Linked DNA regions of Homo sapiens: regions 2 and 3 are each linked to region 1. Evidence: fine-mapped expression QTL. A gene starts in region 1. Each other region holds a variant in brackets. All regions are shown on one strand. Distances are between the middles of the regions. Region 1 holds the start of NUMB (NUMB endocytic adaptor protein). Region 2 overlaps ZFYVE1 (zinc finger FYVE-type containing 1). Region 3 overlaps NUMB (NUMB endocytic adaptor protein).

Region 1 (8,191 bases):
AAAAAAATTTTTTTTTAATTTAAGGAGTATATTGTTTTATTTCTCCCCAGCCCTATCAGGAAAACATAAAATGAGGGAGGGAAAAAGTTGGGCGGGGGGGGAACGGTTGAAGAACTATTGGGTACTATGCTCACTACCTGGGTGACAGGACCAATCATACCTCAAACCTCAGCATCACACAATATACCCATATAACCAACCTGCATATGTACTCTCAGAATCTAAACTAAAAGTTGAATTTTTTTTTAAAAAAAAAGGAAAAAAATCAGAGTTCAGAAATCTGCAGAATTCAAGATCTATTCTCTAGAAATCAAAACCTGTTACACACAACAGATGTGTTTTGGCAAGTCCAAAGTAAAATGTAGCTTTTCAAGTACTCTATTATATAAAATACTTTTTTAAAGGTAATTAGTTTAGGAAGTTTCGAAGCAAACTAAAAAACTAGATATAGGGGTTTTATACTTTTAGAGAACTAGATTTTCAGTTACCCACATTTCTATTAGAATTTATTGTACAGCGAGTTGGAGAGCAGGAAGCAGAAAAGTAGATCAGAGACTTATAAAACAAGACAAGGCTTCTCTGAAATAGAAAATAAACCTAATTAACTAGTGTTAATTGAACTTCTACTTTTTAAAATCACTTACCTAAATAAAACTTCAGTATGTGAAACTGAGTCTCACTAAATAGCACAGTTAGGATTTTGGGATTTAAAAACCACCATTTATTCAACTACAGACAACCAAATCCCACTGTAAAATTATTTGGGCAATCAAAGCTATTCCTAGATAAGTATAATCAGATGAATAATAAGTCCACTTATTAAAACCAGGTAATCAAACTGCTCAATGTTCTCAATTATGAAGAATGAACTTTTCTATTTGTCATATAGGATTTCTCATTCTTCCATCATTTGGTGTAGAACTGAATGATCTATATAAATGTACCATGACTTCAACAACAACTCTAGTGCTAAGAATAATCCACTGAACTCAATGCAAGAAATCAAAAGCTTTCCTTCTCGAAACTTATGTCACAGAAAAAAAGCAGTAAATTTATTTTGTGAAAAGTCTGCATCTGCTTTAGAACTCAGATATGCAATGGTTATATGCCTTGCAGTCTTCCAAATGAAAATAAAAATTTTAAGGAAATATAATCTGAAATAAAACTAAAAATTATTTTTGAGAGAGAAAAAAATAAACCAAAAATCCTGATGCAAAGCTATACCAACAGTTTCTTCACAATTTCATAAAACATTAATGAAGAGGTTACATAATCCCCTGGATTAAAGATTTTAAAGAAAGCTGCAAGGATCTCTTTCAGTTTTCAATACTGCTTCCTGTTCTTAACAGCCATAAAAACAGATCTAAATCAACTCCTAAATATAAACCATCTAGCTTTCAATGGAAGAAAAATCAAACCACGTACAGATAAAACATACATATTCTTTTTAAAAACACGCTGTAAATTACATTTAGGTTCCTCAAACAAGTTAAGTTTACAACATGTACCACATCCAGTTTATTCTCAAGGGAGAAAACCATTAAACAAAAGCTCCCTCTTAATAAATGATTTACTTTGTAGTTAAGCCTCTATCCCAGGTGCATTTTGCTGTCACATATTACCACTATTTCTTTTCTCTACAAAGACCTAGAAACTGTATATCTAGTTCCTTTAAAAATATCTGTATATGTTTTATATTAGTGTAAGGATAAGAAATACTTAATATTTTTACTCTCTAAAAAGGAAATATCTTTTCATTTTTCTCTTTTGCAGTGTTTCTTACTTTGTTTTTGCTTATTTTCTATACATGAAATTTTCTCAAGTCAGTCCATTTCAGTGTTGTTTACTGTCAATATGTCTGTGTATACTCAGGCTTTTACAAACAATGCTTTACGGTACAGTGATAAAAAAGAAAGGGTGAACAAGAGGGCACAAGTGAAACAAAAGCGGACAACATCTGAGAAACACCATTCAATTTCTCTGCCTCAGATTCCCTTAAGTTCTCATGCCAAAGATTCTCAATATCCAAAAAAGTTCCAGAGTCAGAGGCATAACACAATATGTGACAAGACAAACACAGGAGGAACCAAATCAGAAACTGAAGAAATTTAATGGAATATAATACTCCCAAAAAAACCTTTTTTTTTTTTTTTAAGATGGAGTTTCACTCTTGTTGCCCAGACTGGAATGCAATGGCATGATCTCGGCTCACTGCAACCTCCACCTCCGGGGTTCAAGCAATTCTCCAGCCTCAGCCTTCCAAGTAGCTGGGATTACAGGCACGCGCCACCACGCCCAGCTAATTTTGTATTTTTTTTAAAGATGGGGGTCTCACCATGTTGGTCAGGCTGATCTTGAACTCCTGACCTCAAGTGATCCGCCCGCCTTGGCCTCCCAAAGTGCTGGGATTATAGGCGTGAGCCACCGCACCCAGCTTTCAGACTTTTTTAACTGTAAGAAATATATTTTATCCTTTGGCCAGGAACTCAAAAAAAGAAATACACTTTACATTGTGACCTAGTACATACATGTAGGAGAAAAGTTTCCCAAAACAATACTTTTCCTTACCAAATGCAATGTCAGTTTATTCTGTTCTACATTTTATTTTCAATGCAGGTAAAAACTCACAACATTGATTTTATAAATTACTAATAAATCACAATCCACAGTTTGAAAAACACAGGCTAAAAATGAGTATCCTTTATAATAGGATCTTTTAGGCAATTTGCCTCTACCTGTCTCTTTAGCAGGTATTTTAAAGTTGCTACCATTATTACCGGTTTCATTAAAGTAAGTGGTTCTTAAAGTGTGGTCCTCTGACCAACGTGATCATCATTTGAGATAAATATAAATTATTGGGCCCCACCCCAGACCTACTGAAACCCCCAGGTGGGGCCAAGCAATCTACATTTTACCAAGCCCTCCAGGTGATTTTGATGCAAGCTAACATCTGCGAGCCAGGTCTTTACCTTCTATTTAAGAAGTCAGGTCTTTATCGTCTATTGAACAATCCAGTACACACGACTATGTGCCAGTCACTATCCTAAAAGCTCTACAAATACCAACTCACATGAAAAAAAAAACACCACCACCACCTTATAAAGTAGGAACTATTACTATTAGTATTCTGATGAGGAAACTGCACAGAAACTTAGCTAAGTGGTGGAACTAGAACTCAAAACTTCTTTTCACTTTAGCCGAGTATGCCTACCCTCTTTCTGATAAGTATTTACTTCTACTCCTTTAGTTCAGCTACTCCTCCCCTTTTCCCTCCCAAATTCCCCACCCTGTCAATGAACCTATTTCCTAATATTACTGCCATCATCCTAAAACAAATTTCTTTTCTAAAACAAGTCACTTAACCTTGCTTTTAGGAGCTTTGCTTTGGTCCTAGATGTCATCTTGATATTAATTACGAAACTGAAGTTTCTTCTATTTGTGAAGACCTGTGAACCTACATGGCTCCACTGTTAATTTCTCATATATCTACTGTCCTAGCCAGTTCCACGAAACCATTACTCTCTCCTCGGGCAACTTTCTTTCTCTACCTTATCCCCTCCTATAGGGATTCTCTCCCACCTCCGCCCATCTCCGTCCCATTTTGCATGACTCCTCTCCGACCGAGGGAACTTCCACTCCCCTGCTGGCTCCTCACCCCGGTCTCAAACGCGAGCCACTCCTCGAGGACTTCTTTCCTGGTCCCTTAGGGATCCTCAGAGCCGGAGCGGCCAGGCCAGTTGGGTCTCCCATCCCAGCTCAGCTATGGGGGCGCAGGGAGCTCCGGTTCTTCCCCCAGGCGGTGCAAGATCTCTACTCGTCCGACCCTCCGAAGACCTGCTGCTCCTCATCTCTCCAGGAGCCCCCTCCCTTGGACAGCCGCTTTTCTCAGGAGGGTCCCCAACCCCCTCCGAGCGTTTCCTCAGACGCCCCTACTTGGAGCAAGTCTGCTCCCTGTCACCCGGGACCCTGGCCACCCTCGGCCTTCCTACCTCCCTCGGACCGGGGCCACTCCCAGTTCCCCTGCCCCCCACCCCGCTCTCTCCTCACCGGCCGCTGCCGGGCTTCCCGGATTCCTTTTCTCCCTGGCACCCAAGCCGTCCTGGGTATTCCCAAGACACCCCGCCCTTGAAGCAGGTCGTTACAGGTCACCCCCTCTCTGGGACCCTGGCCGCTTCCGTTTCCTCAGATACCTACTCCTCACACAGTGGCCGCCGGTCAGCGCGCTAGACCGGAGCAGCTGGACGTCCCAAGGGACCTCCTGGCCTGACCCGCGCGGGTCCGGCCGTAGCCTACCTTCCTCGGGAGAACTCCGCAGCCAGAAGCCCAGCCCCTCTCCCCCTAGCCCAGTCAGCGCGAACTCGCCGCCGCCCCCGCCGCCTCCGCCCTGGCCCCGGCCCCGGCCCGGGCCCCGACCCGAAGTCCAGGCCCCCTTCCTCCGGCCTCCGCCTCCGGAGTGCTGAGCTGGAGATTCCGCCCCGCGACGGCCCCCAGATCTCTGACCCGCGTTACCGGCACTCACCTGCCGCTGCCCCCGACCAACTCAAGCGCCACTGCCTCTACCTCGGCCGCCAGTGGCCACCAAGCGCCACCACCTCCCCCATGACAACAGGCCCACCCTCTTTCATACTTCTAACCTATCCATTGGATAGTGGGGCGGCAGCTCTCCTCTCTGATTGGTTTAGTATACCCGCCCGTCATCGCTCTTTACCGCCCCTTTTCCTAAACCCGGTATTCGCCCCCGCCCGGACCTGGAGCGTCCTAGCCCAAGCTTTAGTTGTAATTGGTTGAGGGTTGGGCAATTCGAAGTTATGATAGGCTGCTAAAAGTGTCTGTTAAGCTAACTGGCAAGAGACGTGACGGTTAAGGTTGATTCACGCTTGTGCACAGTTTGGTTGCGCAGTAGAAAGCAAAGGAGGGGCAGACGCTCACATTCGTGGTTACCCGGGAAGGGTTAAGTCTTTGTTGTAGAGTTTTCTCTGTAAACTTTTCCACTTCTCCAGCTCACTTCCTGCAAGGAGAAGCTTATCTCTGCTAGCTTTATTCATAGGGGTAGTACTTACAAAACACCAACATTAGAGGTTGTGTTTAAGAAGTGTTTCCAAGCCCTGGGGAGAAAGGTATCAGAGAGATAAAAATGTCCCCTTCTTTTCTTTGGTCTCAATGCATCCAATTTCATTGAAGTTCTTTCCAGGAGCCTCAATGCTAAAGGGCAAAGCGCAAACTTTCATTTAGCAGAAATCAGTCAACTTCGGTTGCAATTATAAATGTCGTCAATAAACTGAAGTGGCGTATTGAGAGTTCTCCAGCTTCCAGATCCACTCCTGGCTGACCCCTGCCAATTGACCAGACAGCCATTAGCAACTTTTTTTTTTTTTTTTTTTTTCTGTGAGACGGAGTTTCTCTCTTGTTGCCCAGGCTGGAGTGCAATGGTGCTATCTCGGCTCATCGCAACCTACGCCTCCCAGGTTCAAGCGATTCTTCTGCCTTAGCCTCCCGAGTAGCTGGGATTATAGGCATGAGACGGGGTTTCTCCATGTTGGTCAGGCTAGTCTCGAACTCCCAACCTCAGGTGATCCGCCCGCCTCGGCCTCCCAAAGTGCTGGTATTACAGGCGTAAGCCACCGCGCCCGGCCAGCAACTTTCTAATAAGCGGGCCACATTATACCCTTTATGATGCTCTGGAAATGAGAATTCTGCTTTCCCCCACCTCTCACTGCCACTTTGTTTTTCTGTTCAGCAGTTCTTAAATAGCCCTACTAGCTGTGTGTCAGATACTTTAAAAGCTTCTCTCTCTCTCTCTCTTTTTTTTTTCTAAACCTCTTCCTAGCAGTCTAAATTAGGGCCATTGAATGAATTGCCGGGTTGTGTGTGTGTGTGTTTTTTTTTTTTCCTCACTTGGCACAATGCACAAGAATAAATGATTGCATTTTTTATTCACTTGGGTACAAATCACAGTAGGCATTTTTGAGAAATCTAATGTTGCTATAAAAACTCTTGTGCTCCTAGAAATATATTCATCATTAGCTTTTTGTTTTTCCTTTTTTTTCACCCACTTTTCCTGCTCCTAAATAACAAAATGCTGGTCTGATTACTCTTTCAGTTTCTAAATCAGATTTAAATGTACTTTCTCACAACCCCACCTATGATACATATACCCATGGGCCATGAAACAACACCCAGGGATAGTTTAAGACACTGTCAGGCCGTGCGGTGGCTCATGCCTGTTATCCCAGCACTCTGGGAGGCCGAGCCGGGCAGATCACCTGAGGTCAGGAGTTTGAGACCAGCCTGACTAACATGGTGAAACCCCTGTCTCTGCAGATGGTGCCACTGCACTCCAGCCTGGGCAACAGAGTGAGACTCTGTCTTAAAAAAAAAAAAAAAAAAAGACACTGTCAAGGAGGCATTCACCTCAAGGATGTGGACTTTGGAAATGTGCTTTGTCTCTTTCTTCTTTCTGCTAACCCTTTGTCTCATATTTCTTCTATTTACTAACCTCCTTGTTCTTTGCAGAGCAAGCTACAAAGAGTCTAAAACTGTATGGTTTATTATTCAGAAAAATATTGTCTTTTTTCTAGCCTATATTTTTAGTCAAGTTTAAATAAAGTACATACTTCTATCACCAGACTAAGCAGAAATTATTCCTCCAGTAACTATACATAACAATAAAGTGCCTTTTCCTAGTTATTTTCCGGAACTTTCCTCCCCCTCCTCTCTTCCTCACCTTCCAATTTAGAAATAACCTCCCATTCAATTCAATGACTCACAAAAAGCCTGTGAAAGGAAAGTGGAAAAGCCAAAATAACTTAGAGATGTCTGAATCATTCAGCTGAAGGAAAGATCAGACATTGACCATGATAAGATAGACGCCAAGACATAAGGCAAGCCTGAGCTAACATCCCATAACATGTGAAGTAATGCAAATGTGAAGATGCCCCAAGAAAAAGCAAATACCAATATGTCCTTTTACACAGCCTTTTAATATATCACCAGCAGCTTGCTTCTCTCTAGTCTTGGCAGTGTGCCATGCTACCAATTTTAGAGCAAGTTAGAAGACAATTAATGTCCTGACAGATAGGAAACAATAACGTCATAGGAGGACATGACCATTATTATGGTACTTTGGGTAATAATGGCTCTTGCACAGCCATAGTGACTAGGTGCCATAGAAAACATAGAATTAGGCCAGCCTTGCTAAGAGGACTTGCCATCTAAGTTGAAGAATGCAGCGAAATTACTATCACAAAACTGGGTGGAAAATTGTCACAAAAGTCAGCCGCTATTTCATACACTAAAAAAAAAAAAAAAAAGAAAGCATGTATAAATGCTTTTGCTCATATACACACATCTATCATTCCTATTCTTTGTGAATATCAGTTAAGAAAGGACATATAAAATAAATATGTTACAACCCAGTAAGTAGTGGGAAAACCTTAAGGAAGGTTTCAAGGAACATGCCTTGAAATAACAGAAGGCTATTGTGTTATCAAAGACTGTGCAGTACCGGAGGGGTTATTGCTTGTATCCCTACATTTTGCTTTCACGTGCACAAGGTAACCCTATCATGTAATTACTCCATCCAGCTTTTTTCTTTTCTTTCCTGTGTTTTTTGCTTCTCTACCATTCTCAGGGCTCCCTCTCAGAAAACAAGAACACTGGAGTCTGGGAGTCTGCAGCTTCCTGTTGCATGGCTGGCTGTGGAGGTCCTGCAGATGGTATCTGTTCAGAGCCACTTGGGCACGACCAAGATGGCAGGTACATTCGGGGCAAAAATAGCATTTATAATCCCAATTAAGCAGAAAATAGAGGACTCAGAGTGATGTCCAATATCTGAGGAGTGATATAGTGTGCCTTGGGCTTTCCTGTACACTAATGCTGTTTCTCCTGCTCTTTCATAATGTCACTTTTCAAGGGAAAAGAATCCAAGTCTCTTTCCATTTCTATTTTAGCCCACAGGGGCAATCTCACTAGGGAAAGGATCCATTTTTTGCTTTTGGATTTTCTTCCTCTGGATTCTACACACGATTCCAATTCCAACTAGATTAGAGAAATAAACAACCGGTGGAGAAGAAAATCGCTCAGATAGCAGACAAGGGCCAGAACTGCCTGCCACTAGCAGTTGGAGGCAAGCCAAAATATTTGATAAGAGGTAGCTTCCTGAGTTAGGGATCCCTGAGGGTGGAGGCTGACA
Region 2 (8,178 bases), 470 kb before region 1:
TACCACCTGATCCATATACTTATTAGCAGGTTCAAAAATTCCAAACCTCACATCATTCCACAGTTTCTTGGGTTCTCCTCCTCCTGAGATCCCAAAGCTAGAAGAGAAAGGCAGGGAAGGGCCCACCTACCCCAAGAAAGCTTGGGAAAGCATTTGAGGCAAGTCTGGAAAAGGTTGCCTGGAGACCAGATGATCTTGAACTTTAGTTGCCTTGACAACAGTGTGGCTCTTTCTATTGTATCTATAGGGCTGGCCCCAGTCATCAAGGGCTAGCAATGAATTTCCTGACTCAAAAGGGACACACTTCTGTCATCAGTGACATCACACCCCAACAAAACATAACTTTATAAATACTTCATAAATGCTTCCCGATGTGACAGAATTGGAACGTCAAGAGTTTCTACATTTAGAGCTCAGAGGTTAAAGAAGGTACATAAAGGCTGGGCACAGTGGATCACTCCTGGTAATCCCATCACTTTGGGAGGCCAAGGCAGACAGATACCTCAAGCTCAGGAGTTCAAGACCAGCCTGGGCAACAGGCAAAAACCCTGTCTCTACAAAAAATACAAAAATTAGCCAGGTGTGGTGGCGTGTGCCTGTTAGTCCTAGCTACTTGAGAGGCTGCGGTGGGATGATGGCTTGGGCCCAGGAGGCAGAGGTTGCAATGAGTCTAGATGGTGCCTAGGGGACACAGAGCCAGACCCTGTCTTAAAAAAAAAAATTAAGACAAAATTACATAAAACCTATACAAATTCAACTATGAAATGGTTCTCCCAACTATTCAGAACTGTAAGTACAGACAACCATAGTTAACTCAATATTCAATTCCAGTATTGAATATTAATTCCTCTATTCGATAGAGACCTGAGCATTTATTTCCTGCAAGCAGGTTTATCTGCTCAGTGCAGGTATGCGCTGCTTGTAGGTATCTGGGCTGTTGCTATTGTGGACCCTGAGCAAAGGAGTCAAGAAATGGGACATAAGCCAGCTAGAAAAAAAGGGGCCTGGGGCCTGCACAACAGTGTGGCTGAATGACATCAAAAGTGATCCTGTCAGCAGGAGGAATAGAGAAACCACTCCCAGGTATGTATGGGCAAGCCACTAGGGCAGAAAACAGCTGCATAGCTCTCTCTCTGTCTCTCTCTCACACACACACATATGTGCATGCATGTGTGCACACCAAAAACTGTTCTTCTCATTCATCACATTTCCAAATCCACATTTCCCGGTCAATAATAAACACAAAAAGTAGTACTTTGACTTCCTTTGAATCCAACAGAGTACTGCATCAATCAGGTGGAACTTCAAAAATAAGATAGGGCTAACAACATTTTTTTTTTTTTTTTTGAGACAGAGTCTTGCTCTGTCACCCAGGCTAGAGTGTAGTGGCACAATCTGAGCTCACTGCAACCTCCGTCTCCGGGGTTCAAGGGATTCTCCTGATTCAGCCTCCCGGGTAGCTGGGATTACAGGCACACACCATCACGGCTGGCTAATTTTTGTATTTTTCACAGAGATGGGGTTTTGCCGTGTTGGCCAGGCTGGTCTCGAACTCGTGACCTCAGGTGATCTGCCTGCTTCAGCCTCCCAAAGTGCTGGGATTACAGGCGTGAGCCACTGCACCTGGCCTAATAACTTTTTTTTTAAATATACTAATGGCATTTAAAATAGGCATTTCGGGCCTGGCACAGTGGCTCACACCTGTAATCCCAACATTTTGGGAGGCGGAGGTGGGCGGGTCACCTGAGGTCAGGAGTTCCAGGCCAGCCTGGCCAACATGGTGAAACCCCGTCTCTACTAAAAATACAAAAATTAGCTAGGCATGGTGGTGTGTGCCCGTAATCCAGGCTACTTGGGAGGCTGAGGCATGAGAATCACTTGAACCTGGGAGTCAGAGGTTTCAGTGAGCCAAGTTTGCATCACTGTACTCCAGCCTGAGTGACAGAGCAAGACTCTGTCTCAAAAAAAAAAAAAAAAAGTGAAAATAAACCAAATCATAGAATAATATAAATGGTATGATCTCATTTATGAAGGATATATATACATACACGCACATGCACTTTTACAGCATTTGCAATTTCTTCTTTTTTTTTTTTTTTTTTTTGAGACAGTCTTGCTGTGTCGCCCAGGACAGAGTACAATGGCGCAATCTCAGCAAACTGCAACCTCCACCTCCAGGGGTTCAAGCCATTCTGCCTCAGCATCCCAAGTAGCTGGGACTACAGGCACCCGCCACCACACCCAGCTAATTTTTGTATTTTTAATAGAGATGGGGTTTCACTATGTTGGCCAGGCTGCTCTTGAACTCCTGACCTCGTGATCTGCCTGTCTCAGCCTCCCAAAGTGCTGGGATTACAGGCATGAGCCACAGCACCCAGCCAGCATTTGCAATTTCTATAAGCATATATAATAAACTACTAATAATGGTTATCTGCAGAGTTAGAAAAGGACACTAGGCAGGGGAAAAGGATTTAACTTTACTATGATCCCATTTATTCAGGAAGAAAAACATACATTATAACATATATTTATGCATGTGCTTACACAGCAATAAAAATTTCTAGACACTTATGTGAGAAAGTATTAAGAGTTAGCTCTACAGACTGAGGAGGGGGGAGGTAGGGGAAGGAAAGGGGACTTAAGTCTCATACATTCTGCAGTACTTGAATTGTTTATCATGAATATGCATTGCTTTTATAATTTTTAAAATGACATCTCTGTTTTAATTAAAATAACCAAATACTCAAATATAACTGACAGTATGTATCAGGAACCTTTTAAAATGGTCCCATCCTCTGACCTCTTTAGAAGCGAAATAACTATTGGGAAGGAATACAGCATGAAGTTAAAAGCTCTTGGGGCCTGGTGCAGTGGCTGTGAGAGGCTGGAGTACAGTGAGCTGTGATCACACCACTGCACTCCAGCCTGGGCAACAGAGCAAGACCCTGTCTCAAAAGAAAAAAAAAGAAAAAGAAAAAAAGAAAGAAAAAATGGGAGATTCAAGAAATCAAACAAATTATTCTGACGTGTCATTTATCTGTTTATACCCACCCCAACTCTTTTATCTCAAAAGGACTCAAGGCTACTAATAAAAAAAAATTAATACAACAGCATAAAACAAAATAAAAACAAGTGGAGAAGAAAAGACAGCCATTTATATTATACACTGCTATGAACTATGAAAACTTTAGTTAGAGTCTATTTTAACAATAAAACTCTACTTGGTCAATTTGCCTAAGGCAGACCTTAAAAGTGGCTATTAGAGTGATAACCAGAGAATTAAGCATTTTTAATTTAAAGGATGTTTAAAACAAAAAAGTACAAAACCAATTTTTTCAAAGATTTGGGTAAACTGCAACAACTGCAAAATTCTCTAGGGAGAACCCAAATCACAAGCTTAAACAAATTGACTCCTTCCCATAGACAAAAGAATTCAGTCCCATAGCTCAGTATAACACAGCCCCTATACCTCAGAGAATAGAAAATATCAGATCTCGGTGAAATTTTGAGGATGCCAGTTACCAGGAATCATCAGAATTCCAGCTGAACAGGTT[CT/C]TTTTTTTTTTTTGAGATGGAGTTTCGCTCTTCTTGCCCAGGCTGGAGTGCGGTGGCAAGATCTCAGCTCACTGCAACCTCCGCCTCTCAAATTCAAGCAATTCTCCTGCCTCAGCCTCCTGAGTAGCTGGGATTACAGCCACGCACCACCACGCGCAGCTAATTTCGTATTTTTAGTAGAGACGTGGTTGCTCCATGTTGGTCAGGCTGGTCTCGAACTCCCAACCTCAGGTGATCCATCTGCCTCCTGAAGTGCTGGAATTAAGGGCGTGAGCCACCGCACCTGGCCTTTTTTTTTTTTTTTTTTTTTTTTTTGAGAGGGAGTCTAGGTCTGTTGCCTGGGCTAGAGTACAGTGGCGCACTGTACTCGGCCCACTGCAACCTCCACCTCCCAGGTTCAAGTGATTCTCCTGCCTCAGCCTCCCTAGTAGCTGGGATTACAAGAGTCTGCCACCACGCCCAGCTAATTTTTGTATTTTTAGTAGAGACAGGTTTCACCATGTTGGCCAGGCTGGCCTCGAACTCCTAGCCTCACGTGACCTGCCCACCTCCGCCTCTCAAAGTGCTGGGAATGATTACAGGCATGAGCCACCTCACCCGACAGACCAGGTTCATTTTAATCGCAGAAAGCTTGGTGACGCTTACCACCTCGGAAGAATACAGTCTAACTATTTTTCTCAAAGCCAGTAATAAATTGGCCTGAGGTAGGACATCCAAGACTTCTGAGGGGAAAAATCCCTGAGCACTAATTACAGTTTACAGTGCTCAGTGTCCCTGATGGTATTTTTTTTTTTTTTTTTTTTTTTTGAGACGGAGTCTCGCTCTGTTGCCCAGGCTGGAGTGCAGTGGCGCCATCTCGGCTCACTGCAAGCTCCGCCTCCCGGGTTCACGCCATTCTCCTGCCTCAGCCTCCCAAGTAGCTGGGACTACAGGTGCCCGCTACCACACCCGGCTAATTTTTTGTATTTTTAGTAGAGACGGGGTTTCACCGTGTTAGCCAGGATGGTCTCGATCTCCTGACCTCGTGATCCGCCCGCCTCGGCTTCCCAAAGTGCTGGGATTACAGGCGTGAGCCACCGCGCCCGGCCCCTGATGGTCTTACTTAAACATTAATCTGGGTTAGCTTCCAGAAGAGCAAAGGAGCTGCTATAATCCAGCCTCTGGCCTATTTGCCTTATAATGCACAGTGATCAGATTTACAGCCCCTTTGCCTGATTCAGCGTCTTTTCAGAATGTTTGCATTAGGTAAGCGTCATCTTCCGTTTTCACTGCCTTTGAGCCACTACAAGGACATTATTAGCCAATACAACTAAGTGCACTTGAACTTCAAATTCTAACTGGAAATGTATGTATTTCATGAATTATTCAAATGTAATCATTTTCAATAGTTTTTCCTTAATATTATTCACAATTAACATTCACTGAACATTTTTACTATATAACAAGTACTTTGTCTCTTAAGTATGCTTTCATTTAATCCCCACCTCTCTTTAAGAGGCCAAATCTCCCTCTTTTTTTTTTTTTGAGACAGCATCTCGCTCTGTCTCCCAGGCTGGAGTGCAGTGGGACAATCTCGGCTCACTGCAACGTCTGCCTCCCGGATTCAAGCAATTCTCCTGCCTCAGCCTCCCAAGTAGCTAGGATTACAGGAGTGCGCCACCATGCCCGGCTAATTTTTTTGTATTTTTAGTAGAAAGGGGGTTTCACCATGTTGGCCAGGCTAGTCTCAAACACCTGACCTCAAGTGATCCACCCGCCTCGGCCTCCCAAAGTGCTGGAATTACAGGCGTGAGCCACCACGCCTGGCTGTAAATCTCCCTCTTAAAGAAAGAAAAAACAGGACCCAGTCTCAGAACCTTCCATGCGTAATAGTCTCTAGCTAAGGAATAATAGGCGATTTTATTTGTTGAGAGGCAGTACAGGCTTTGTGGTTATGAGAAGGAGCTCTAGCGTAAACTGGCCAGGTGTTAGGCCTGCTGTCACTCACCAACTGTGTATAACCAATTACTACATCTCTTGGTGCCTCCGTTTCCTCATCTGTAAATGAGGATGTTAACAGTACTTAACTCATGGAGTTGGTGTAAGGATTAAGTGAACTAATCCATACAGAGTACTCTGAACTTTGGTATATAACAAATAGTAGTGTTATTGTGTATCTATTTTTGTGTTTTGTTTTGGTAATTTTCTACCTCTGGGGGGAGGTCCCATTCAGGTGCCCCCCCCGCCCCTTGCAAGAGAGAGAGAGCTGTTCTTTCTCTTTCTTTTGCCTATCAAACCTCTGCTCCTAAACGCCCCCCGAACAAAAAACAATTTCTACCTGTGATACTAGTTTTCCGCTTATAGTGATAACAAAAAGTTTCCTCTATGAATAAATTAATTTAAATAAGAAAAAAACAGTGAGTCAATGTTAAGAAAAGCATAAAGGCTGTCCAGATTAAGTGAGACTCAACATGACACCAACTCACCAGGGCTGAGCCACACCAGCCAGAAATGAGTGCCTGGTTTTTCTCCTAGCTGAGGACCGGGCACTTTTTTTACTATCACATATGACTTCCCCATATTTGCACTCCTGGCAAGATGAAAGCATCTGACAGGTGCGGACTCCATTCATGTGCTTCCGCTTCTTATAACCTCTTTCCACCCAGATTTCCAATCACCAGCACCACAAAAGCTGGCGAACTGAGTGTTCTCACCACCCACTGGCACCCCAATGAGAAGCCCTTGGGGCACAAGCCAACTGACCTTCAGGGCTTTGAAGATGACTCCCGGGTGCCGGGGAGAACGGGTGGTGTTATTCTCTAGTAGCTGCTCCAAAGCACGCCGAAGCCCAGAAAAGTCCGTGGGAGGGTTGTAAGTCCTCGTTCCCTTGTAGTGAATGGAACTAAAGGCTTCAGGGAAACGGCCCAGCTTCCGGAACCGGTCCTGGATGAGCTTCTCTGGCACCTCTGAGGGATGATCTATACAAGCAGAAACACAGGCACATGGGTAGTGAGTGACATTTAAAAAAAAAAAAAAAAGTAGGCCAGGCACGGTGGCCCACACCTGTAACCCTAGCACTTTGGGAGGCCAAGGTGGGTGGATCACCCGAGGTCAGGAGTTCAGCCTGGCCAACATGGTGAAACCCTGTCTCTACTAATAATACAAAAAAATTAGCAGGGCGTGGTGGCGCATGCCTGTAATCCCTACTAGTCCAGAGGCTGAGGCAGGAGAATCGCTTGAACCCAGGAGGCGAAGGTTGCAGTAAGCTGAAATCGCACCACTGCACTATAGCCTGGGAGACAAAAGTGACTCTATCTCAAACAACAACAACAAAAATCTTTCATTATAAAAGTAAGATACGAGGCTGGGTGCGGTGGCTCACACCTGTAATCCCAGCATTATGGGAGGCCGAGGCAGGTGGATCACCAGGTCAAGAGATGGAGACCATCCTGGCAACATGGTGAAATGCCATCTCTACTAAAAATACTAGCCAAGCGTGGTGGCAGGTGCCTGTAATCCCAGCTATTCAGGAGGCTGAGGCAGGAGAATCACTTGAACCTGGGAAGTGGAGGTTGCAGTGAGCCAAGATCGCGCCACTGCACTCCAGCCTGGCGACAGAGAGAGATTCCGTCTCAAAAAAAAAAAAAAAAAAGTAAGATACGGGAGGGTGCAGTGGTTCACACCTGTAATCCCAGCACTTTGGGAAGCTGAGGTGGGTGGATCACCTGAGGTCGGGAGTTCGAGACCAGCCTGGCCAACGTGGTAAAACCCCATCTCTACTAAAAATACAAAAATTAGTCGGGCCTAGTGGTGCACGCCTGTAATCCCAGCTACTCAGGATGCTGAGGCAGAAGAATTGCTTGAACCTGGGAGGCAGAGGTTGCAGTGAGCCGGGATCGCACCACTGCACTCCAGCCTGGGAGACAGAGCGAGACGCTGTCTCAAAAAAAAAAAAAAAAAAAAAAAAAAAGTAAGATACTCTGACTCAATGTACATGAAGTACATAAGCAGGCAGAGCTGATCTATGCTGTGAGAACTCAGGTTACCCTTTCCTGGTAAAGGACATGAGGAGGGCTTCTATGAGGAGGGCTGGTGTCCTATGGTCTAGCATTGAGTACGCAGGGGCATTCAGGCAGTGAAAACTCATCACATGATACCTTGATATGATACGCACTGTTCTGTATGCACATTACACTTCAAGGAGGAGTCTTTTTTCCCAAAAACCCATTCATTGGAAAAATCTAGATATGCCAAAGCATAAAAGGAAAGAAATTATGTCCTCTGCTCTCACCTACTTCCCGAAAGTAACCACAGCTCAATATTGGCCCTTTCAGACATTTTTCCTACAGACTTAGCAACATATATATGCAACTTGCTCTTTTCTCACTTAATAACATACTGTAAGTACCTGTCCTTGTCACAATACACTCAAAAGCAGCAATACAGTCTTCGATCCTGTGGATATACTTAACTAATCACCTTCCTGATGAACTTTTACAATTCTCTGTACTTTGAAAATTCTGGTCTTTTGTGAGGAAGCTCTGGGCAAACTACCAATGTATAAGGGTATTTGCTTGCCCACACTCTCATCATTTGTCCAGAAACTTGGGCAGCCATAGCACAGATGGATTCAATAAATGTATC
Region 3 (8,191 bases), 140 kb before region 1:
TGTAGGTGCATCATGGCCCCATTATACGTAGCAATAAATACTGTGACCTCAGGATTGATTTTGAGGGAAGAGCTTTGTTCCTTAACCCACTCCAGGCTCCTGAGTAGCGTGCACCACCACATCCAGCTAAAATATATACTTTTACAATTGTCTTTCTAAAAACCAAATCAATATTTGCTATAACCTGACCTTCATCTTATCTATGACGCCTTATCTTATATAGCTTATCGTATATAGCCTTATCTGCTGCTTGAAGTAGACTTATTAAAACTAGTCACTTGAACAATAGTTAAAATTGTATGATAATTGTGGCGATGTGTAATTGCTTTCGGAAACTCTGTTTAGGAAAAAACAAATACACCACAAAAAGTTTCCTAAAGTGTCCTTAACAATTATCAATTTCCTTAACAAATATAATCCCTACTTATAATGCTGTGCTACACAGGAAATAATAAGATTCTTTCTAGATATGTATCCCATATTCTAAGGACCTATTAATCTGACTCAGACCCAAAATGTCTATTAAAAAATGTATTGTGACATGTGTGGGTAAATTATTTGACTTTTTATTTCAGATTGAGAGGAGTAACTGAATTAAATCATTAGATCAAAATACTTCAAATTTGTTTACACTAGTATTAAGGTGACAAGTTAGAACAAGAAAATGCAAAAATGAGTTCCATTTAAACATTTAATTGAGAAGGAAATGTAAATTATTTGTTCTTTAAAACAAAGTTCCAAAATGACAAAACCATGCAGTAGAAAAAAAATTGTAGGATTTTGTTAATCACATAAATTTTTAGTAATTTATACTGTTATCTAATGACAGTATTTTTCTCTCATACTGTCTCAGTCTGAATTAGTTTTAGCACTTACTCAAAACTAAACAAGGATAAACTTGGACACAAAATATATTTAGAAATATATTTACTGATATGTGTACAGCCACCCCATATATTCTTAAATTTAGGGAGATCTGAACACTGAATAATCATTATTTGAAAAGCATCTACATAAACAACATTCCACATATGACAGATATTTGGTAGGCTAATAATTAAGATACTTTTTCTTAGATTAGCAATGCAGGTTAAAAATCATAGCAGGATCCCTAAAGGTAAGTTTATCCATTTTCACTTACTATCCTGAAATTTAATTTAGATTGGAAAAAAAATTGCACTGAATGTAAACTTTGGGGTATATTTATTTTTTACTCAAATATTTCTTCCTATTTCCCTGTGAATATTGGGCATTATGTAAAATCCACTTGTTACAAATATTGCTAATATTTTAATATAAACAGGGTTTACAAGATCAAATGATATTTATTTTAATACCTACTATTGAGGAGATAATCCTCTTTTAACCTACTTGATTCATTTATTGGAATTTCTTTATTTTTTTGAGACAGAGTCTCACTCTGTCACCCAGGCTGGAGTGCAGTGGCGTGATCTCGGCTCACTGCAACCTCCACCTCTTGGGTTCAATCGATTCTCCTGCCTCAGCCTCCCGAGTAGCTGGGATTACAGGTGCACATCACCTGTATTGTATTTTTGGTAGAGACAGGGTTTTACCATGTTGGCCAGGCTGGTCTCGAACTCCTCAGGTGATCCACCAGCCTTGGCCTCCCAAAGTGCTGGGATTACAGACATGAGCCACCGTGTCCAGCCTATTTATTGGAATTTCTTAGAATCATCAGATTTAGTATCAGTAGACCCACTGATAATATCACGGATAGTAACTTCCTAATTCATTAATTTCCATATACAATCAAACCAATTCCTGCATTATAAAGAAACCAAAGCTGTACTAGTTTTAAAAAATATGTCAGTGCTACACTAGGGGTGTAACTCCTTATAAAGCAAGCATGAATGTGGCATCAAACTTACTTTTCCAAAGAAGCCTTTGAAGAACTTCCTTTCCTGGAGGAACAGGGGGACAAGTCGAGTGCTATTATTGTATGGCCTAAATGTCCCAGAGTTTCACACCAATAAGCACATACAGAAATTGGGGAAAGGAAAAAGTGGGAGAAGGGGTGGGAGTGAGTTTCAAAGAGTTATCCACACCAGGAGTGACAGGGAAAAAGGAAGGGTGCATGAAAATGCAGGGAAACACACTGTATAGCCTAAGAATCCATAGAAAGAGTAAGAAGAAATCAGAACCTGTATCCATGCAGAGCAACCAGTTAGTTTAGTAATCGCTATTTACATTTAAAACAGAGATCTTCCAAATTTGGCAGCAGAGAAAACAATAGGGCATACTGGTTTGGTGAGATTTGCATTTTAAATTTTATAATAGTGAATAGAAAATAGAAGACTGGTTCCATATACATTTTTTAAGTTTAAAATTGGCGGTCAACTATGTGAAAGTCACCAATTTTAAAAAAGTCCACATTCAAATGACCACATAATCACATTAAAAATGTAATACGTAAAATTAAATGAGTATGCATCAAAGGTCCTTGTCATACTTTTTTCTTAGTGAGTTCAAGATGTCACTTAGAAACTCCATACCACTTAAGGGGAGCTTGACCATTGGCTTTCCATTTACTTACATTAGTATCAATCTATATGTACAGGTGTGCTGATCAATTTCACAACACACATAAGGAAATAACATGTATGTTTTATTCCAGACACAGAATAAATTATCTATTAAGGTTACAAGGCTAATGTTTATACAAGAGCTGAGAAAACAAGTATCCTAAGAACCAAATGATGTCTGTGGGCCACAACTGAAATTTAAGAAACAGGGTTTTGTTTTCTTTATAAAAGCTATTGCTTATTATTATTTGGTTTTTGTTTGTTTGTTTGTTTGTTGAGTCAGAGTCTCACTCTGTCACTCAGGATGGAGTGCAGTGGCACGATCTCAGGTCACTGCAACCTCTGCCTCCTGGGTTCAAGCAATGCTCATGCCTCGGCCTCCCGAGTAGCTAGGACTACAGGTGTGCGCCACCACATCCAGCTAATTTTTGTATTTTTAGTAGAGACAGGGTTTCACCGTGTTGGCCAGGCTGGTCTCGAACTCCTGACCTCAAGTGATCCACCTGCCTAAGCCTCCTAAAGTGCTGGAATTACAGACATGGGCCACTGCGCCCAACCTAAAAGCTGTTATTTTAAAATAAAGAAACTTGCATTGACATTTATAAG[G/T]AAACAATTCTGAAACTATCTGGATAACAGAGGCATAACTATCTATGCTATCAGCACCAATTTTTAAGCACCATTTATGAAAACTGGCCACCAATTAAAATCTGTAGAATTTACACAAATTAGATGGGTTTGAACTCACACAAGCTAGATTTAACTTTACATTTCCTAGCTGTGGTTGAAATATACTTTAAGCCTTTACTTTTTATAATCATAGGTTTTTAATGTTGGATAAATGTCTAGGAAAAGATAATTGCATTGAAATCTGACTCTTTTACACAATTCATAAACTATTCAGTGCTCTCCAACACTGGAAAGTTTGTTTTCCCCTCTAAGCTTTGAAAATCACAAACAGCAAAAAATATTTCCACAAAACATTTTGAACTGCAACTGGAAAAATAATAAAGTAATTGGGTAGTTATCACAGTAAGACTAGATTATTTCTGCTGCCAAGTTTGGTGACCCTAGTTTTGTTAGACTATGAATAACCATAAGCTTTCAAGGATGCGGCCAAAGTTAAGATATTCACCATTCTTGAGGGATGGGAAGGTGAAGGAAGGAGATTGTTAATATTTAATTTAGCTCCTAGAAAAGCTACTGTTAAACATTGAGCTTTCCCTCTTTTTATAAAATACCCAAGATGTTAATGAAAAAAGTTGGCATGCAAAATGCATAAAAAGACAGTTATTAAAGAATAATAATGTTCTTTTAAAAACATTTGTTATGATTCTTTTACCTGCTAAAACAAGAACATATATTAAAACAAATATATCAAATAGTGAATAAAAAACCAACATATTAGAAACTGGTAGTATAATGAAACTAGTCTAAAACTAAGACAGAGGGAGAGACATTTAAGAAACAATGGGAAGAAATGACCTTAAACGAAGGGCATCTTGGACTAGAGTTAAGCAAGATAACCAAAGGCCTTATACACTTTTTTATGGAATTGGCTGATATATGACAATATTCCTCACCCTGTAGCTGATATGCCATAAAGGCAGTAACAATGGGCAATAGTGATTTCTGTCATTTATCCTATAGAAGCTAAGTCCCAAAGTAGCTAATCAGTGAGGTTATATGACAAAGTAAATGAGTTGAAAATAGCTGTCAATAACTTTATGCCCAGAAAGTTAAAAAATTAACATATTTATGCTCTGAGGAGCATATTTTTAAAACACTATCTTGTTTAGTTATAATATTTTTTTCATTTGAGCATATCAAGTATGCAGATGACTTCCAATTGAAGTTAATGTAATTCTAAATTGTAAGAGAGTATTTTGGTGAAAAACACTTGCAAATTATCTCTTTCCTCAATTGTTCACAAATTTAAAAAGCGCTAGAAGGCTGGGCGCAGTGGCTCATGCCTGTAATCCCAGCACTTTGGGAGGCCCAGGCTGGTGGATCACCTAAGGTCAGGAGTTGGAGATCAGCCTGGCCAACATGGTGAAACCCCGTCTCATACAATTAGCTGAGTGTGGTGGTGGGCGCCTGTAATCCCAGCTACTCTGGAGGCTGAGGCAGGAGAATCGCGTGAACCCGGGAGGCGGAGGTTGCAGCGACCCAAGATCGTGCCACTGCACTCCAGCCTGGGTGACAGAGCGAAACTCCACTCCAAAAAAAATGAATAAATAAAAAGCACCAGAAATATTACATTTTTAGTTCAAAGATTATTCACTAGATGTGTTGGTGGTACAGTGATGAGCATAGCTGCCTTCCAAAGATCATTCACATGGTAGGTTTAAAATGCTTGTTTTGTTACTTAACTGGTACATCTGAGCTATTCTTTAAAATTTTAAACTCTGGCATTCAAACTAATTTCAAAGATATCCTATTTCTTCTTTAATCCTCTGCAGGCTTATGCATCCTTATATTTGCTCCCACTTATTTGAAACTCTAAAAGGAAGCTTTATAATCTATAAAAAAAACAAACAAAAAGTCTCCAGAAACATAGCATTTGGCACAATATAAGTATCTGGCAAAGTAGGTTGTAGATCCCCAGTGGATGATTTTTAGATGAATGTTTGCTCAGAGAAATCAAAAGGCAACGAGAAATTTCTGCATAGTAAAAATATGAAAAGAAGACAAAAATCAGGAATACATGTGGCACACTATGATATGAGAAGAACAGTATCCTAAAGACTTCCGATTTTCTGCAAGATTCTCAGTATAGCTCTAGAAAGAGTATTTAAAAGAAAGGGGAGGCCAGGTGCAGCAGCTCATGCCTGTAATCCCAGCACTTTGGGAGACTGAGGTGGGTGGATCACGAGGTCATGAATTCAAGACCACCCTGGCCAACACGGTGAAACTCTGTCTCTACTAAAAATACAAAAAAACTAGCCAGGTGTGGTGGCGGGCACCTGTAATCCCAGCTACTCGGGAGGCTGAGGCAGGAGAATTGCTTGAACCTGGGAGGCAGAGGTTGCAGTGAGCCAAGATCACACCACTGCACTCCAACCTGGGTGACAGAGCAAGACTCCGACTCGGCGGGGGGGCAAAAAAAGAATGGGGATGTTTCACTGAGCATAAGAAACAGGAAATTTACTCCAGTGACCCAAAACTTCAATTTCATGTTTTAATAATACATGCCAGTGCAAAACTACATATAACATTTGCTCCAAATCTAGTTTTTGTCTGAAAAATTTTAAATAACTTCTTGATAAGAAGTCTAGAAATGGTCAATTTCCCCTCAAAGTTTAAAAGTTTAAGTATGTTTAGAAAACAATCACCAACATATCTAAAACTTTCTTTTTTATTATTTATTTTTATAGAGACAGGGTCTCACTATGTTACCCAGGCTGGTCTTGAACTCCTGGCTTTAAGCAATCCTCCCATCTCAGACTTCTAAGTAGCTGAGATTATAGGCGCAAGCTACTGTGTTCGGCTTAAAACTTTCTTTTAGTCATTAAAAACCACAGGAAAATAAAGATCTTTAGAAATAAACAAAACAGTTTTGGTAAACTTAAAACATTAGACATAATATTTGATTATGGTTATTGTAAGACTCAATTTGACCACATATTGTAGATCAGATTGTATTCTGTATATTCATTCTAGAAGTATTTTTTGAGTTACTACTATGTGCCAGCCACTGTTCCATGCATAGGTATAATTTTTAAAATGGCTATTTAGTTCCTAATTCTGATGAATATAAAAACATTAAATTTTATTATCTAAATAGTCCTATGCCTCAAGCAATCACGCCTATTATCTTCTTGGTTTAAAAAAAAAAAAGGTAAAATAAAACAAAAAAATCTACTGAAACATTAGTTTTAAAACTAGATAGTTAAATAGTGGCTATCTCTGGGGTTGTAGGAAATTTCATTTTATTTGTGTACTTTTTTGGTTCATTTGTATTTTATACAATAAACATATTGCTTATATAATAACGAGATATTTCTAATTAAAAGTATTTCAAAAAAAAACAAAGCTAGACAGGTAAGAGGATTAACTGCTCATTAAACAACAAAATACCGTTTCTCAATATGTTCTGGGCAAACTTAAACCACCTCTAGCTTTTCCTTACTTACAGAGTGCACATGAAGTCATACTCTGAATCAAAAGACTTTCTAAAGGCTCATTCCACAGTGGCCATTTCACCATAAGTTGTGTAAATTATAAGATTTTAATAATTATTTATAGTTTGTTTCAGGGCTATCTAGTCTGTTCACTGTTTTCAGTCATTAGTATAAAATATTATTTAATGGGCAAATAACTGCATTACTTTAAAAAAATGTTCTTAGCTAAAATCATCTTGTTTGTGTATTTATTTAGTTGAGACAAGGGCTCGCTGTGTTGCCCAGGTTGGTCTCAAACTCCTAGACTCAAGCAATCCTCCTACCTCAGCCTCCCGAGTAACTGATATTTTGTTTATTATTATTCTAGATAAACCCGGAATTATTTTGTTAAAGAAAATTAAATTTTTACTTCTCTTTTAAATTTGGTTTTGACAAAATGGAAAATTAAATTATCTGAGACTATGTTCAACTGGGGAATATATTTAGGTTGGCATGGAAGGTCTACAAACTATAATTTCATGTACCATAACACAAGGTCCCCTTAACGTAATGACAGATTGGGAGAGCACAGATAAGACTAGCAAAGGCTTGAATCATTTAAGAATTTTAATGATCAAAATCTGAGATAAAGAGTATGTATAGGTATCTATGTATGTATATATGTGTAGGTATGTCTGTATCTTTTTTTAAAATTTTTTAGTTCTTTGTATATTATAGCCAATTACTTTTCTCTTTTCCCTTCTATGACAGATTCAGGTATTTATCCCAAAATTAAATCTACCTCTCTGACTTGGTTGCTTTTTCTCTAAATTTTATATATTTTATATTCAGGAATTATAGATAAGAAGTAATATAGACTATGCCGAGAAGCACAAAAGTTCTGATTACTAAGCAAATTGAGGGAAAAAAGCACACATTAGTAGTCAAACTTGTGGCAGCCCACCATACCAGCAAACCCAAAGCAACATGTATTTAATGCTGTTGGGACCAGAGCATGCAGAAGTAATGCTTAAAGCTTTCACAGCAAAGTGGGGAAAGGCCACATATTAGAGAGAAGGAGGGTTGTGAAAAGGGCTATCAGATCTATGGAACATTCCTCAAACCTATGGAAAATCTGAAATTAACACTTTGAATCTTTATGAATTCCGAACTCGTTCTTTCCTTTCACTGAATACACAGGCATGTGCCTGGGATGTGTTCTATCGCATAACAGGCAGAGGAAACGTTATCCTGGGAAAGGGCTCTCTACTTCAAGTGTGCTAAAGTTTATGTAAAAGGCAGTAGAAATAGACTGTTTATGTTAGAGGTGTATAGAGAAGAAAATTGGGGAGTAGGAGTCAAGGTAATAGTAAGAAGTCTCCAAAAAGGAAACCTCACCAGGCATCAACACAGACCTCTATCCTCTAGTTTTCCCCAGGAAGCTATTTTTTACAGTATATTTAAAACCCCTAATTTATAGCCCAGTTATCACAGTTAGGGTAAGATGTTAACTGTAACAGTTTAATCCTAGTCTTAGAATACTATTCT

The links.
Region 2: its variant is fine-mapped to the expression of NUMB in whole blood (INTERVAL, PIP above 0.99).
Region 3: its variant is fine-mapped to the expression of NUMB in whole blood (TOPMed, PIP above 0.99).

Annotation. Positions count from the first base shown.
Region 1 is chr14:73,453,974-73,462,164 of GRCh38, forward strand. It overlaps NUMB (NUMB endocytic adaptor protein), which reads right to left and starts at 4,573. Exons shown (of 13, transcript NM_001005743.2): 1 at 4,520-4,573. It overlaps LOC101928143 (a long non-coding RNA gene), which reads right to left. Exons shown (of 3, transcript NR_135251.1): 3 at 6,962-7,291. RefSeq lists silencers at 4,297-4,426, 4,437-4,526, 4,717-4,916 and enhancers at 4,902-5,435, 5,436-5,969.
Region 2 is chr14:72,986,846-72,995,023 of GRCh38, forward strand. ZFYVE1 (zinc finger FYVE-type containing 1) reads right to left here. Exons shown (of 12, transcript NM_021260.4): 4 at 6,298-6,512. Among named protein-coding and RNA genes, the nearest start is that of TRC-GCA8-1, 28 kb to the left of the region's middle. The variant CT/C (reference allele first, on the strand shown) is at 3,555.
Region 3 is chr14:73,314,501-73,322,691 of GRCh38, forward strand. It overlaps NUMB (NUMB endocytic adaptor protein), which reads right to left. Exons shown (of 13, transcript NM_001005743.2): 6 at 1,890-1,922. Among named protein-coding and RNA genes, the nearest start is that of PAPLN-AS1, 73 kb to the left of the region's middle. The variant G/T (reference allele first, on the strand shown) is at 3,150.